Linked DNA regions of Homo sapiens: region 2 is linked to region 1. Evidence: fine-mapped expression QTL. Tissue or cell type: blood mononuclear cells. Region 1 holds a variant in brackets; the other region holds the start of a gene. All regions are shown on one strand. Distances are from middle to middle.

Region 1 (8,107 bases):
AAGGAAAGGAATCAGAATCAGCCAGACTTTCTTTCCCAGGGTGGACAGGGACTTCTGGGGTGCCTGGCAATGTTTTTCTTCTTAACCTGGGTGGTGGTGACAAAGATGTTTGCTTTATAAATTATTCATTAAACTCTTCAGTTACATGTCTTTCTTTGAATATTTTATATTCACTATGAGAATATGCAAAAGAGAAAAGCAAAATCCAGTCTCCATGTCTAGAAATGGCTGCTTCCTTTACCCCAGGCTTCCTTACTTCTGGGACCTCCAAGCAGCATTTGTCCAAGTCTATGACCAGGGTCGTGAGTCAGTGTGCTCTTACTTTCCAAGTTCTATGATGAGCTTAGCCTTATATCTGGGACTGTTGTATGTGTGGAAGTGGGAGGGGTGGGAATATGCTGCCCCAAGAAGACAAAACATTAGGAATAACAGTGAAAACACGAGACAACGCTGTAGAGACTTCCAGTGTGGTGGAAGTTTGGAGAATGAGTCCAGGGAAGGAACACTCCATTGGTCCTGAGGATGGACTGGGGGAGACAGAAGCTGGGAGTGGGGAGGGTGAGAGAGGATGTTGTGATGAAGGTCCCTGTGAATGACCGGTGGAAGCCAAGTATTGCTGGATCCACAGGAGGGTTTGGAAAAGCAGGAGAATGTTTGCTTCACCCCACCTTGTTGCCAGTTTTTGTCCACCAATCAATCAATTATCAATTCAGTGATGCCCCCAGATATGTTATATCTAACAGTCAATAGGAGAATCTTGAACAAAGAAGACATACAGAAACCTTCAGAGAAAAATAGAAAGTGAATAAGAGAATTAAAAAATAGATGCCATTGTTCTCATTGCCAAACTCTATTGGAAAACAATCCTCAGCTGCTCCAGGAAACGCATTAATCAGAAGTCTCCCGGGCTTGCTGTGGAAAATAGTTTGGTAGTTCCTTACAAAGTGAATCATAGAATTACCTTACAATCCAGCGATTCTACTTCGGTTATATATCCAAGAGAATTGAAAGCAGGGACTCAAACAGACCCTTGTGCACCATAGCCTTATTCACCATAGCCAGAGGTGGAAAAACCCAAGTGCCCATCCACAGATGAATGGATAAACAAAATGCAGCACATCTATATAATGGAATATGATTCAGCCTTAAAAAGAATGAAGCATTGAGACTGCTACAACATGGATGCACCTTGAACCCGTGCCAAGGGAAATAAGCCAGTCGCCAAGGGACAATATTATAGAATTATTCCATTTCTATCAGGTACCTAGAATAAGCAAATTCACAGAGACTGAAAATAGAACAGTAGTTAGCGGGGGCTAGGAAAAGAAGGGCATAGTTATTGTGTGTGTGTCGTTGGTTTGCTTCTTTGAGACAGAATCTCACTCTATTACCCAGACTGCAGTGCAGTGGCACAATCTCTGCTCACTGCGGTCTTGACCTCCTGGGCTAGGGTGATTCTCCCACTTCAGCCTCCCGAATAGCTGGGACTACAGGCATGCACCACCATACCTGGCTAATCTTTGTAATTTTTGTAAAGACTGGGTTTTGCCAAGCTTCCCAGGCTGGTCTTGAACTCCTGAGCTCAAGCGGTGATCTGCCTGGCTCAGCCTCCCAAAGTGCTGGGTCTGCAGGTAGCTATCATGCCCCTTGAGAGTTTTTTTTTTTTTTTTTGAGACAGAGTCTTGCTCTGTCACTTATCCTGGAGGGCAGTGGCACGATCTCAGCTCACTGCGACCTCCGCCCCCCGGGTTCAAGCAATTCTCCTGCCTCAGCCTGAGTAGCTGGGATTACAGGCGTGTGTGGCCACCCCCAGCTAATTTTTGTATTTTTAGTAGAGACGGGTTTTACCATGTTGGCCATGGCTGGTCTTGAACTCCTGACTTCAAGTAATCCACCCGCCTCATCCTCCCAAACTGCTGGGATTAGGGGCATGAGCCACCACGCCCAGCTGAGAGTTATTGTTTCACAGGTACAGTTTCTATTTGTCATGATGATAAAGTTCTGTAGATGGATGGCACAACACTGTAAATATAATTAATACCACTGAATTGTACATTTAAAAATGGCTACAATGGTAATTTTATGTATATTTTACCATATTCCAAAAAGAAGTCCACAGAAGCTCAAAAAATTGTTCCTGTGTGTTGAGATAGAGGAGAGAGGCCTGGGCTGTGGAATCATTTACTGAATACCAAGAAAGAAAACAAGGTAAACTTTCCTTGTTGAAGGTTGAAGAAGAAAAAAATGCTTTCTTTGGCCTATCCCTGGAGCTTCTGCTACTGTTGGGCCAGCCTCTGGCAGCAGCACAGAGATAGATGTTAAACAGCGCGGGTAGACCTGGGTGCTTTCAGAAAAGTGGCCCCTGCCCCTTCTTCCTATCCTCATCCCTCAACAAAGGCTGAACCCTGGTTACCCTCCAAAAGCCTGTTTTCTGGGAAATTGCCTTTTAGAATTTTTCTTTAAATGTATGAATCCACCCTGAATGCTATTTGAAAAAGAAAAGGAATTTAAAGATGTTGAAGTATGCTTACATATACACAATGGAAAAATTTGCTTCTCAAACAGCCTGAGTAGAAAACCTCGCATCCCCATGGCAACCAGATTCCACTGTGACCACACATCAAATGGGTGGGTGACCTGGCAATGTAGGCCTGGGCTCTTCAGCCCCTCCCTGCGAACATATGGGGCCCAGATGTACCACCCACTGCAGTAGGGTGCTTGAAGCTCCAGGATGGCTGGCTGAGGGCTCTGTTCTAGTCACTAAGGGATATTCCTGGAGACCCATCTAACCTGGGACAGGGAATCAGTTCTTCCTGAAAATCATAGAGGGGCAGGAGACTCTCCCTCAAGCCATTGCCCCGGGGAAATGCAAGACCCCTGTGGCTACTCAGGGGCTTGGATTACTAGGATGAGTGGTTGGGATTTAAAACAATTGTGTGCTGCTGACCAGAAAACCAGGCCCTTGGTAACACAAGAACTGCAAGTCCTGATCAGTTAAAAACCTAAAGAATAATCAGATCCTTAATGCTTCATTTCCTTGAACAGACATCTGACCCTTTTATAGAGTTTGTGTCATCTTCCCCTTTGATCATCTTCCCCTTTGATCATTCAGAACAAGTACTTCTTTCCAAACTACGGTCTCAGTCCCATTTTCAAATAGTATTTTGGAATGGCTAGCCTATGATAACCCCACCTCCCTTCCTGTTGAGCTTCCTAATGATACCGAAGGGAAGAGCGTGGTCCCTTTAAGTGATACGGAAGCGGGGGCGGGGGGGGGGGGGGAGGGAAGGGCGTGGCCCCTGGCTAGGGCTCCACCCCTACGAGCCTAGATGAGGACAGGCATTTTTGTTTTCCTGCTCAAATGCTGCATTTCCCAAGACCACCCTGGCCTGCCACGCCCCCATCCTGTGCCTATAAAAATCCTGAGGCCCTAGCAGGCAGACACACAGATGGCAGGACGTGGAGAGGAGCACAATGGCGGAGGAACTAGGCCACTGACCGGCAGAAGCAGAATGATGCTGTGGCAGTCGGATGAGAGCCCAGGCCGCTGAGCTGTCGACTCCAGGGGGGAAGCCTTCCCACTCCATCACCTTCTGACTTCCCCCATCTGCTGAGAGCTGCCTTTACTCAAAATCTTGCACTCATTCTCCAAGCCCAGGTGTGATCCGATTCTTCAGTTACAGCAAAGCAAGCACCCAGGATACAGAAAGCCCCCTGTTGTTGCAACAAGGCAGAGGGTCTAATTGAGCTGGTTAATACAAGCTGCCTATAGACGACAAAACTAAAAGAGCGCAGGGTAGCACACGCCCACTGGGGCTTCAGGAGCTGTAAACATCCACCCCTCGACACTGCCGTGGGGTTGGAGCCCGGTAGCCTTCGCGTCTGTATGCTCCCTAGAGGCCTGAGTAATGGGGCACTGAAGAAGCAAGCCGGTCCCCGTGTCGCACGCCCTGCAAGGGCGACAAGTGAACTTTTCCCATTTCACTAAGGTCTTTCTTTTACGAAATTGATGTATAATAGTTGTACATGTATATGGGGGTACGTATAATATCTTGATACCTGTATACAATTTGTAATTATCAAGTCAGCTGATTGGGAAATCTATCACTTCAAACATTTTTGAGTTGGGAGAGTCACAATTCTTCTAGCTATTTTGACATAGACAATAAATGATTAACTATAACTTCCCTGCTATACTATCGAATACTACAACTTACTCCTTCTATCTAACAGTATTTTTGTCCCCATTAACCAACGTCTCGTCATCCTCCATCCCTTCCCAGCCTCTGGTAACCACCATTCTCTCTCTATTTCTATGAGATTCACGGTTTTTTTTAGCTCCCACACATGAGTAACATGTTATTTTACTTAACATAATGTCCTCCAGTTTCATCCATGTTGCTGCAAATGACAGGAGTTTTTTATTTTTATTTTTATTTTTTTTTTTTTGAGACAGAGTCTCGCTCTGTCGCCCAGGCTGGAGTGCAGTGACGCGATCTCGGCTCACTGCAAGCTCCGCCTCCCGGGTTCACGCCATTCTCCTGCCTCAGCCTCCCGAGTGGCTGGGACTACAGGCGCCCACCACCACGCCCGGCTAATTTTTTGTATTTTTAGTAGAGACCGGGTTTCACTGTGTTAGCCAGGATGCCCTCGATCTCCTGACATCTTGATCCGCCCGCCTCCGCCTCCCAAAGTGCTGGGATTACAGGCGTGAGCCACCACGCCTGGCCCGGATTTCATTCTTATGGCTGAATAATATTCTATTTTGGATACACCACATTTTATTTATCCATTCATCTGTTGATGGACACTTAGGTTGATTCGCTGTCTTAGCTATTGTGAGTAGTGCTGTGATAAACATGCAAGTGTCTTTGGCATACTAATTTCATTTCCTTTGGATGTATATCCAGCGGTGGGATTGCTGGATCATAC[T/C]GTAGTTCTAGTTTAGGTTCTTGAGGAATCTCCGTACTGGTTTCCATAATGGTAATACTACTTTACATTTTCACCAACAGTGTGCGAGTGTTCCCCTCTCTATCCTTGCCAGCATTTGTTATTTTTTGTCCTTTTGTCTACCACCATACCATGCTGAACACGGGGATCCCATCTGAGGTCTTTCCTGTGGGAGTGGCCGGAAGGCCATCATCCTTGTAGTCACCCTCCCCTGCTGACCCCAAGGAAAGCTTTGCAGGGCTTGTAGATATCAAAGCAAGCCCTCGATTTTGATATTTCGGGGGCCCCAGCCCCAGACTGGCCAGCTTTCTCATTTCTCCCACAATGCAGTTTTTATAATTGGCAAGCCTTGTTTTTACGTTCCAAGCCTGGAGTCTTTTTCCACAACATTATAGAAGACCTTGGGCATTCTGAGAACTAAGTAGCTTGCTCTTGGCATTGTCTTTGATTGGGCCAGGCTTTCAATGAAGGAAAACACATCAGGAAGAAAGTTGCTCCCAGGGTTGCTGACTGATCGCAGAGATTTTTTTTTTTCTTTACCACTTTTCTTTGTGTTTGGCCAGGTATAGAGTGAGGGTGGGGGGTGGGGAGGCCTCTCCTAGCAGACTGAGCTTTTCTGCACCTTAGGCTAAGGCTGAGTGGGGCCAGTCCTCTCCTGGCCATCTCTGAGACTTGACTCCCCACTACAGAGGAGTACAGGGGCACTGGGCATTTCTTCCTTGTGAGAAATTTTCAGCTCCCGTCAGAATGACCTTCCACCAAACCCTTTGCTTCTTCCCGTCATAAAGTTGGAAGAAGAAAAAAGAAAAGCGGTTCGTGGTATGTGGGCAGGTAAAATGTTAACAACTTTGCTATAATCCATGTTCAGTTCAGTAGACTTGGAACAGCATGAATTTCGCAAAGTGAAAAACTCTGGCTTCCTCTGTAGACGCATTGCTCTGCAATCTGAAAACTAGCAGCAAGCCAGAGTAATAAGAGCAAGGAAGGGGGAGAGGGAGGAAAAAGGGAGAGGGCAGACAAAATCAGTGTCCTAGGGCCTAGCCTGAACGGTTTAAGTTAATGCCTATCTATTAATATCTTTTCTTTCTCCTTCCTTTTTTTCGCCTTTCTCCCTCCCTCCTTCTTGCTGCCTCCCTTCCTAGAGACATGATGATGATGCTTCCCTCTGGCAGCTCTGTCTTATTTGGCTATACCCAGCCAGAGCTATAAGAATTCAAGCCTGTCTTCACAGATGTTTCCTTTTAATCACTATAATTAATATTAGTGATTGTTAATGGGGACATACTAAGAAACACACTTGCAAAATGCTCACTGGCAATTGGAATAACCTTGATTTTGTGAGCCACGCATCCTCTTTGCTTGGCCACCGGTTCCACAGACAATGCATCAGATCCTAGAATTATCTGATCATTTATTAATTTCTTCTCCCAGACCTGGGACAAAACCAGGGGGTTTCCAGAGTGGAAACAACAGGGAAGTTAGCTGTCCTGACTGAGAGACTGTGAAGGTTCTCAGTGTGGATTTCCTCTGATCTCCTGGCATCACCATCTGGAGTGGGAATGGGTATCGGGTGGGTGTTCACTGAATGCTGGTTCTGGGCTGGGCCTGTGTTAGTGGGCAGGCTGCTCAAGTGGCTTTGGGACTCTGGGGCAAGAAGGCATCCTGGCTCCTCCTACTCTGAAAAAGTGGATGGGTGCCTTGCTGGGGGTGCCTCAGCGAAAGGCTGTATGTTGACAGATCCGGGGATTCCAGTCTACTCAAACTCATTAAGCACATGGGAACTCCCGGCATAGGGCAGGCCCAGCAGAGGCTATGCTGGTGGACTGGGGACATTCTCAGCGTGGGGAGCCTGGGCGTCTTGTCACTTCCCATTAGCTGCAGGATGCCAGGATCCTTCATTTCTGATAAATCATTCATCCATCGACCTAAAGTAATGTTTTTAAAACTGATGTTAAGAAAAAAAAATGTTTTTAGATAAGTTAGTAAGTTTGCAGGAACAACAAGGCTTCCCATACACAAGTTGCCAGTTTGTATAATCTCCTCAACTTTTTAAAATGCAGAACTTCTCAGAAGCTTTATTATGCTAACATGATTCTAATTTCCACACAGGTGGAATTGGTATACAGTATTTCCCAAGCTCGTTTAACTGTCGTTCTCTTTGCTCTTGGGATACCTGTTGAACTATCTAATGCATCACCAAACCTGCTGATAAAGCAAAACTAAGCTAGCAGAACTCAAGGCGGAAAGGGAGAGAGCCACAGCATATAAGTCGTGTCTCGGGATGAGGAAGACAGGAGGATTTTGTAGGGTTCTGGGGGGACTCGGCTCAAGTTGGTTAAGGTGGTTTTTTAAGGCAGGGCATATAGTAGTTAAGACTAGCCAACCCAGCAGGGTCTGGCAGGGACTTTTGATAGATAAGCTATTGTTTGGTAAGCAAGCTGTTTGCTCAGGTGAGCAGTGTGCTGTCTCAAGTAGATTGCTCTATAGGGAGTTTCTGAAGCAAAAGTGAAATTATTGCTTCATAGTCTTATCTGCCTTGGGCAAAGATTTCCTGGACAAAACAACTAAGTCATGTTGACACAGGTGGTCTCAGTTCTTAGGACCTATAGCTGTGTTCGGTTGATGGAGGTTGTCATAGTTCTCATAACAATTCATATTTCTCACATGTACAAGAGACTAGTACATGGGATGCTAGTCTTTTCAAATGCACTCTGAGAAATACAGAATCTTTGAAGTTAACATTTCCAACAGAAAGTCCTTGAGTTTAGTGCCTATTGCATAAAAATGACTTCCTGTGTTTCTCGGGAACCTCCCTGGTCTTCCTAATTAAGGATTTTAGTTAATAAGTGTTCATCTGATTCATTCTCCTTGTGATTTGTGATTTTTATAAAATTTGATAAAGTCCCATTTCCTTTCTCTAAGAACATCTAATTTAGGTTAAGTTATGCAATTTAGAATAAAATTTGAATAAGAAAAGAAAGTATTGAGGACAGTCAGATTTGAGTCAGAAACTGGGAGGTGACTTTGAAGGGAAGTAGGAGCAATCAACTGTATGGAATATAGTTTCCGATTTTTGTTTTCTTGATGCTCTGGCATTTGATGCATTGATGGTAGAGAGCCTGCTCCTCCCAGGGCTAGCTAAGTCCTACAGAGCAAA
Region 2 (8,107 bases), 220 kb after region 1:
ACCATGTTGGCCAGGCTGGTCTCGAACTCCTGACCTCAAATGATCCACCCACCTCGGCCTCCCAAAATGCTGGTATTACAGGCATGAACCACTGCACCCAGGCTTTATTATTATTATTATTTTCTGTAGAGATGGTATCTCCCTGTGTTGTTCAGGCTGGTCTCAAACTCCTGAGCTCAAGTGATCCTCCAGCCTAGGCCCCCCAAAGTGCCAGGAGGCATGGGCCACCCATTACAGATGTGAGCCACCATGCCCAGCTGGGTTTTCTTATTTTTACTCTTTTAGAGACAGGGTCTTGCTGTGTTGTCCAGACTGGAGTGCAGTGGCTATTCACAGGCACAATCATAGTGCAACTACAGTCTTGAACTTCTGAACTCAAGCAGTTCTCTTGCCTCAACCTCCTGAGTAGCAGGGACTACAGGCACATTGCCACCATGTCTGACTAAAATATTAAGTTTTGACACCAGTACAAGAAGGAACATGGACAAAAATTTAAATAAGGATGATGATTTAAATGACAGCTGAAAAGAATATATTCTGAAAAAGGCAGATGAGCTCACACCACTGGGCCAGCCTCTTGTATTCTTTGGACAACTGAAAAATAAAAATGTCAGCAGAGAGTATAGTCAAGTGGGAACTTCCTATAAAATTAGCTTTCAGTCAAATATGAAAATCTTCAATTGACTTGTCTTTTAAAAAATACATTTTAATTTCAGGACATTCCTATGGGAAATCAGAAAATTTCCTAACTACATCACAAAGAATATGCCATTGCTATTTAATTGCTCCAAAAGATGTCCATAGGTAGGTGTGTCAGGTTAGTGACAGATGCTGAATAAAGTGAGATAATGAAAAGGTTTCCATGGCAGAAGGGTCTGAGGAAAGATGGTACAAAATTATAGCAAAATCATAAGCATTATTAGAAGTGATCTATGGTAGTAAGATGGTGACTAAATGGTAACAAGAATAAGGGGCAAGGAGGGTGAGCAGCAACGCCAGAGGTGACTCTACCCAGATAGAGGACCATTATTCAAGGTTCAGCCAGCCCAGCCGACGGTAACTGAGTTCCCAATCGCATCAGTTGGTCTGGGCTATAAACCACAGCCCCATTAAGCTATAAATGACAGAGATTCCTGCCAAGGCAAGAGCTGGCAGAATGCTTATTCACCCAGCTCTGCCAACTAAGGCTCTATTGGTGTGGCCAATCAGGACATTTTGTCAGGTACACCAGCCACAAATTCCCATATTCAAGGATCTGAGACTTTCCTTTTATCCCAGTAATTACTAGAAAACATGTGCTCTCTACTAAGGAAGTTCTCACAAAGCCTATACGGAATTAGTTAATAGTTAAGTGCCACTCACTATACGGAATTAGGTAATTAGTGAATTAGGTGCATTCGCTATAGTTCTAGAAAAGACTCTGAAGTGCCACTAGAGGACCATGTCTCTTGTACGCTGTGACAGATGTTTGCTGAAAAAATGAGCAAGGTGAGCGAGCAGAGTCTGTAATACATTTGGATAATTTTTGAAATTGGGGGATTTAAAAACTATATCGAAGCTGATAATGAGATGTGAGTTCATTTGAAAGGAGAAGAAAAACGGGTGCAAATTCTTAAGCTTTCAAAAATGCACATTTTCAATTCCCAAATGAGACTGTAAAATCTTTCAAGATTGGGGTCTGGTTCTTCTATCCCAAAATAAAACTAATATGCATTAAAAATATGTTAAGCAGCAAAGGTGATTAACAGTGAGGATGAGAGATAAAACAGTCTTAACTATTCAGCTTAATTTAACAAGTATTCGAGTTCCTATAATATACTTAACAGGTGAAAAAAATTAAATGTATGCAAATACAAAATCAGGTAATGTTAGAGGCTCCACTTTTTAAAACTAAGTCACCAACTCCCTATAAAAAGAACATTTCTTAAATTTATAAAAAGCCTGAATGGAAAGAAAATGTAAAACACAAAGCAAATAACTAGTCTAGACTCTACTGCTGGACTGCACTAACTAATCAACCAAGATACAAAAGATAGGGCCCTGGCAGTCGTTACTCTGGGGAGCCTCAGGTATAAACTCTGCTGAGCTCTGACAAATCCTGTTGATCTGGTTAGGTCCCTGCCTCTAACTCTTTTCACTACCATCTCACAGAACTTTATTGCTCCATTGCTCTTCTGTTCTAAGTTGGTCATTAAGAGTAAATATGAAGGGACATGAGGCACTTCTGACTAAGACCAACTAGTTAAAGGTAGTAAAATCTAAAATAAAATCCATTTCTTCTAACCCTTAGGTACATCTCTCAACATACACAAAAAGCTATTTTGTATTGGGCGAGTTTGACCCAATCTCCTAGCATTTATCTTGAATACAACAGTTCTCAAACTTGAGTGAGCATAAGAATCACAAAGGGAGTCACTTTAAAATCCCCTTCCCCCATGTCTTTGGGCAAAAGAATCTACATTTTTAATAGACATCCCAGATGACTGATGAGTGGTGTACAACCACTTTTAAAAACAGCTGCTGCTCTATCACTACTTAACAAATAGCCTCTGCACTCAAGAGTGCTTTGTTTTATAACACAGAAACGTTCACACTGTAACAAACTGGATTTTGGGAAGTGAATTCTATTTTCCCATAAGTAGACTTTAAAATTTTAAAGATACATTATTCATTTTGAAGGCTGGGAGTGATTTCTTATACTTTCTTCTATAGGCCACATTCCATGCTTTTCCCTTCCTCATCTTCACCACAGTGGTTAAAGATTTAGAATTTAGAAATCCTTTTAAAAGAGCATTTTTCACCCCAATTTATCTTTTTTATTCGTCAGGAATGCGAGTATTTGAAAAGTTGACTTGTAAACCTTACTTCTGAAACCACACCTTGAAAATGCCAAATATCTCTTTAGGAAAGAAAATGTTTGTACCAAAAAGGTCCACATTTAAGGAAAATGCTGCTATTAAATAATGCTTAGATACAAGGTACTGAGAAACAGCGAGAATTTTATTATTTTTCAGAAAAAGAAGACACTTTTTTAAAGTACCTATGGAGGATCATCACCAAGTAAGAAATGGCACTTCTAGTAATGCACTTGGGCACAGTAAACACAGTCCCAGACTGAAGCCTGGTGAAGTGAATTCTAGGCTCAGTTTTGCCACAAAAGAGCCATGTGACTTTGGGAAACAACCTCTCTGGGTCTAAGTTTAATTTATAAAATAAGATAGTTAAATAAAAGTAACACTTTGATTCTAGCAGCTTAATTCACTGGGAAGTATTTACCTCAAAAAGCATTTGAGGTATGTAACACCTCTAACGTGTTTGATCAAATGACATAATTAAAACTGAACTGGAAACTTGATATTGTGAATAACTTACTTAGGCTGTTCTCGTAGCTATCAATTACATATCATTGTACTTTGCTTCTTCAAAAAAGCTGAATACTTTGAACGTCTAATGTTCACATATTGAGTTTTCTTAAAGTCAGGTACGTATGTACCATAGTCGTTTTGTAAAAGGAAAGAATGTATCTTTTCAGTCCTTTTTCCCAACCCATTGTCATTGCAGACTGAGAAAAAAACAGCTTGAAGTCTTAACCACCAAAAGCAACAGTGCTGCAGTAATTACACCACAAAAATAACATTTCATTCTTAATGAATACTCAGTCTCCTGAGATTACAGTTATCTTCTGGTAACCAACTTTATTCTGTCTGCTCTCATTCGTTAGTGCAAACATTTTCAATTTTAACCCATATTCAGTTCACAAATCATACTTATTTCCAACGGAATATACTGAGTCCAAAAAAAAAATTCCCCAATAGTCCAACAGGAAGCAACACATGCATTTGGCAATTCCAAGGAGGCTGGGGACTCACAGATACCTCGTTCAAAATAAATAAACTTTCCAAGGATTTATTTACCGACGGGAAAGGCAGGTTTGAAAACAACCAGTTAACTTCACTCCCAAGTTGGCATCTTAGAGAATCTTTGTGCGTTTGCAAAACACCCAGGACCTCTGAGCCTCCCAGCCGAGAATTGGCCAGGGGAGCACACGCCCATCGGCCCTGCCGGGAGAGGAAACAATGGGAGAGGCGCGAGGGAGCAAGCCGGCGCCCCGGGCGCCCCAACTCTGCGGCCCCGGCCCGCCCCGACCCCACGCGCCGCGCCCCCTCCCCGGGCGCCCAGGCCCCCCAGGCCCCCGCCCCCGAGCCCCGGGACGCGGCCCACCTGCGGCGGCGCGGGGAGACGGCTGCACTTACCAAACAGGGTCAGGGCCATTGTAAAGGCGCTCGCCGCCGCCCGCGAGTCCAGGCGCTCCTCCCAGGCGGGCTAGGGATCACCTCATCAGCCCGCCGCACCCACACCTCGGAGAGAGTGGGGTGCCCGATGGGGCGTGCTGGGGGCGCCGGCGCCCGGGGAGGCTGCAGGCCGGGACGCGGGGGACCGCTGCAAGAAAAAGTTATTCACGCGTTATTGTCGGGCGCACCGGGCCCAGGGAGCCCCGCTAGCTCTCCGCGAGCCGGCACTTGTCGCTGCCATCAGGCGCGGAGCGTGCGCGCGGGAGGAGGTACCTGCGAGGCAGGAGGCTTGGCCGCGGCGCAGTGGCTGGCGGAGAGGCGGCGCCGCACTGGCGGCGGCGGCGGCGGCGACGGGGAGAGCAGCAGCAGCCTCGCACAGCCCCCGGCGGGGCGCGCTCACTCCGCATCCCGCGGCCTCGCAGACGCCATCTTGCGATAGCGTCTCCCACGAGCTCGGCCGCGCCGCTGCCTCCCGCCTCTCCCTCGGGCTTCCCGGTCGAGTGCGTTCCCATGGCAACGGGCGCGCGCGGGGGTAAGAGGGTGCGCCCTCATTCCCGCGGCTGCGAGGAGCCACCAGCGCCCCCCTGGAGGCGGCCGCCCGGAGCGGGATGGAGCGGGGCCGGTGTGCGTTTTAGCTGAAAGCCCAGGTTTTTTCTTGAATGGAATTTGAGGAGGCGCAGAGAGGAGAAAAACGCTGTTACTCGAAAGAGGAAGAGTCACAGGAGGATGCTGAGTGAACGCAGCGCCCAGGCAGGGTCATCTGGGGACCTGGTGCGTGTGAGAACATATTTCTTCTCCTGGCGCCCTCCAGGCTCACTGTGGCTGGAGCCGGTGACCTGAAGCTGCAGGGCTCTGGTAGGAACAGAGGCACTGAAAGCTGCATTCCTCTCCGTTTGGACTTAGGAGCTGCTAGTAGTTCTGATGAAATTGACACACATTAGGAAAAGGAGTCGCTTAAAAAGCATCTGAGATTACCTAAGATAATTTGTTAAAAGACCAATGCTTACACCTGATTTTCTTCCCTTTACATTATACCTCTTTGATATTGTCTCAAGGAAAAAAAAATCAGCATGTGTCACTGACTGGCACTTATTTGCCACAAAAGATTGTTCCCCTGAGCTTCTTGTATTTATCTGATAATCACTGGCAACGTCCTCCTTTCTGTGATGTTGTCTCCTCACCTCTGTCTCTGCCATGAGGAGCCATACAACGCCTTGAGATTGTCAGCCAAAAGATGTTCTTGAAAAGCTGGGTTATATGTTTTTCGTCGTTGTCGTTTAATGTATTCAAAAAGTCATTCTTCTCTAGTTGCTATATGTGTTCCCTGTTTAAGAAATTCCTTCTTTTTTCTTGTTTCTCTGCTTAGGGATTTGATACTATTTTGGTATCTGATCATGTAGATCTTCTCTTTGGTTCTCCTTTCTTTCTACAGGCGTCTTTCCTCTTAGTTCCTCAGGTTCCCTAGTGTCTTCTCTCCCATTTTCAAATAATTCTTTAAGAATATTATAGAAATATCTTGTATTTAATGTATCTTAGAGATCGAATCCTGATAAAGTGGGAGATTACTACAGTACTTCCAATGGAACCACAGTTAATTCACCATCATTATTTCAAAGCAGACTTAAGCATCAGAAGAAAAGCAGGTTGGAAGGAGGAGCCAAGCCTTTTGTTTCAAGTCAGTTAACTCAGGAAGAAAGAAATATTAAAATGATTCAACATGAATGGGCAAGTGTTTAAGATGCTATATGTTTGGAATTTTGTGATGTAAAATGGCTCTCTTTAGCCACTAATCAAAATACATCTTTAAAATCCCCAGAATTTAAAATCTTTCATGAAAATGGACTCTTGATTTTGAACAACCTTTCTGCTCATAAAAAATTACAAACACACAGCTCATGAAAATAAATGAGAAACTCAAGAAAGCTTTGTGGGATAGATTTTATAACCATATAAAGATTGCTGCTAATCTGCTCTGCAGCCAAATAAATCAGAAACCGAAGACTCCATTTACTGTTTCAACTAGTGGTCTTCAACATTTTTGGACCAAATTTCCTTTTGAGGCTCTAATGAAAATACTGTCCCTCCTCTTAGAAAAGTGCTTGCATACATACACACATTCACCGGAAATTTTTCACATAATTTCAAGGGGATTATGGGCTATTCAGGGACCTTAGGTGAGCCCCTGGAAGTGTTTTTTGTAATCTCAGAAAGTTTTTGCCTTTATAATTTAAAGGAAAATATTTTCCTTCAGAATAGAACCATTGAATTTTGAATAGGAAAAGACCAAAACTCCCATGATTTATAGGTAAAAAAATTGAGTTCCCCGTAAAAAGATTTTCCCAAATGTGTTCACCTATTTAGTAGCAGAACCAATGGGAAAATCTTAGATTTCTGGTGTTCTCACCGACCACCTTCCCTACCCACATCCCGCATCAATTTAGAGGTTGCATGGTTTGAATTTCAAAAGAAAAATCTGTTTAGTATTAGAAGCAAAATAACGAGAGTATTTTGTCCTTAGCCATTCTGCATAGAGTTTGGGAAGTTGCATTTTGTCTCAAAGAGTTTTTATTAACATGCCCTTCTACTCAGAACTATGTGTCCCATCATGCTAAAAGAGAAACAATGCCTTTCTCTCCTCTTTGTTAAGCTCTGTTAGAGCATCAAGGTTTTGGTGCTGCAGCTCAGCTTGCTAGTAGCTCTCTCCATCCCTTGAGGGGTTGTCCTGGGAGTGAGACAGAGAGAAAGGAGCTGCCCTGCACTCAGATTTACCCTCCCATCATACAGCCGGCCTTTGGTTACTAGACCAGCTTTCCACTCACTAGTTTGGCCAAATACAACTGAATCCTAGTGAAATACCCTGCTTAAACTCAAGTGAAGATCCTTTTCCTCTCCCCTTTCTACTCGCACACCCACGTACACACACACACACACAGCTGTTTTTAAGGTACAATTTGGAACAAAACAGTGTGAATGTTGCTATGTTTCCCTTTAAAGCATCCTGCTTTCCACGAGCCATTCCTTTCAACTGACTTCCAAATGGTTTGATGCTCTAACAAAATGCTCTCTATACTTGATCAAAGTGCCTGTCTTGGAAATAGTATTGGCTTTTAAAATAGCGTATTTTTTTCAATGAGCTATTCCTATTCTATTGCATGTGCTTCTTTTCTCACTTAGCTGAAAATAAAGCCACAGCCTTTCAGCTACAGAGTCAATGCAAGGAAGGGCGTTAACTGCTTGGAGGTGATTATTACGGGTGGTGACTTAGATTGTTTATAAAAGAAGGGCAAAGAATGAATTGACTTCTCAAAATATTTATGTTTTCATTCAATGATTTCATTTTGTGCTTAACATGCAAGTGCTTAGAAGAGCCAGATTTGTTTATTCGTTACTAACTAGCTGTCAGATTTTTAGACAAATGTTTTACTGTTTCTAGTTCTTATCTTCCTCCTTTGTAAAATGAAAGGATGGTACTAAGGTATCTCTAATGTCCCTTTTAGGTTTATCTGTCATTGTGTGATATTTTAAAATCTTTAAATTAACTGGTTTATGGATAAAACAGAGGACATTTTTATTTGAATCTTCAATATATTTAAAGTGCTGTTATATCTAAAGTTCATAAATACCTAATGTAATAAAGAAGTCATATTTTGTCAAACCAGTGGTACTGCTATTTCTTCTGCAATGTGTTGTACTAATAATGTTATATTAATCATGTAGAAAGCAACCTTTTTCTGGTTTAACAGGATTAAAATTAAAAGTGTGCACTGAACAACCCATTTCAAATTTACTAAAACAATTTCTCATTTTTATTTAAG

The links. PIP is the estimated chance that this variant, and not a neighbour inherited with it, causes the effect.
Region 2: it holds the start of CHN1, and the variant in region 1 is fine-mapped to the expression of CHN1 in blood mononuclear cells (TOPMed, PIP 0.93).

The regions. Positions count from the first base shown.
Region 1 is chr2:174,785,343-174,793,449 of GRCh38, forward strand. It overlaps LOC124907908 (a long non-coding RNA gene), which reads right to left and starts at 2,608. Exons shown (of 2, transcript XR_007087311.1): 1 at 2,532-2,608. RefSeq lists enhancers at 1,971-2,786, 3,199-3,493. The variant T/C (reference allele first, on the strand shown) is at 4,933.
Region 2 is chr2:175,000,641-175,008,747 of GRCh38, forward strand. CHN1 (chimerin 1) reads right to left here and starts at 4,741. Exons shown (of 13, transcript NM_001822.7): 1 at 4,254-4,741. The coding sequence starts at 4,272. RefSeq lists an enhancer at 3,911-4,457 and a silencer at 4,442-4,501.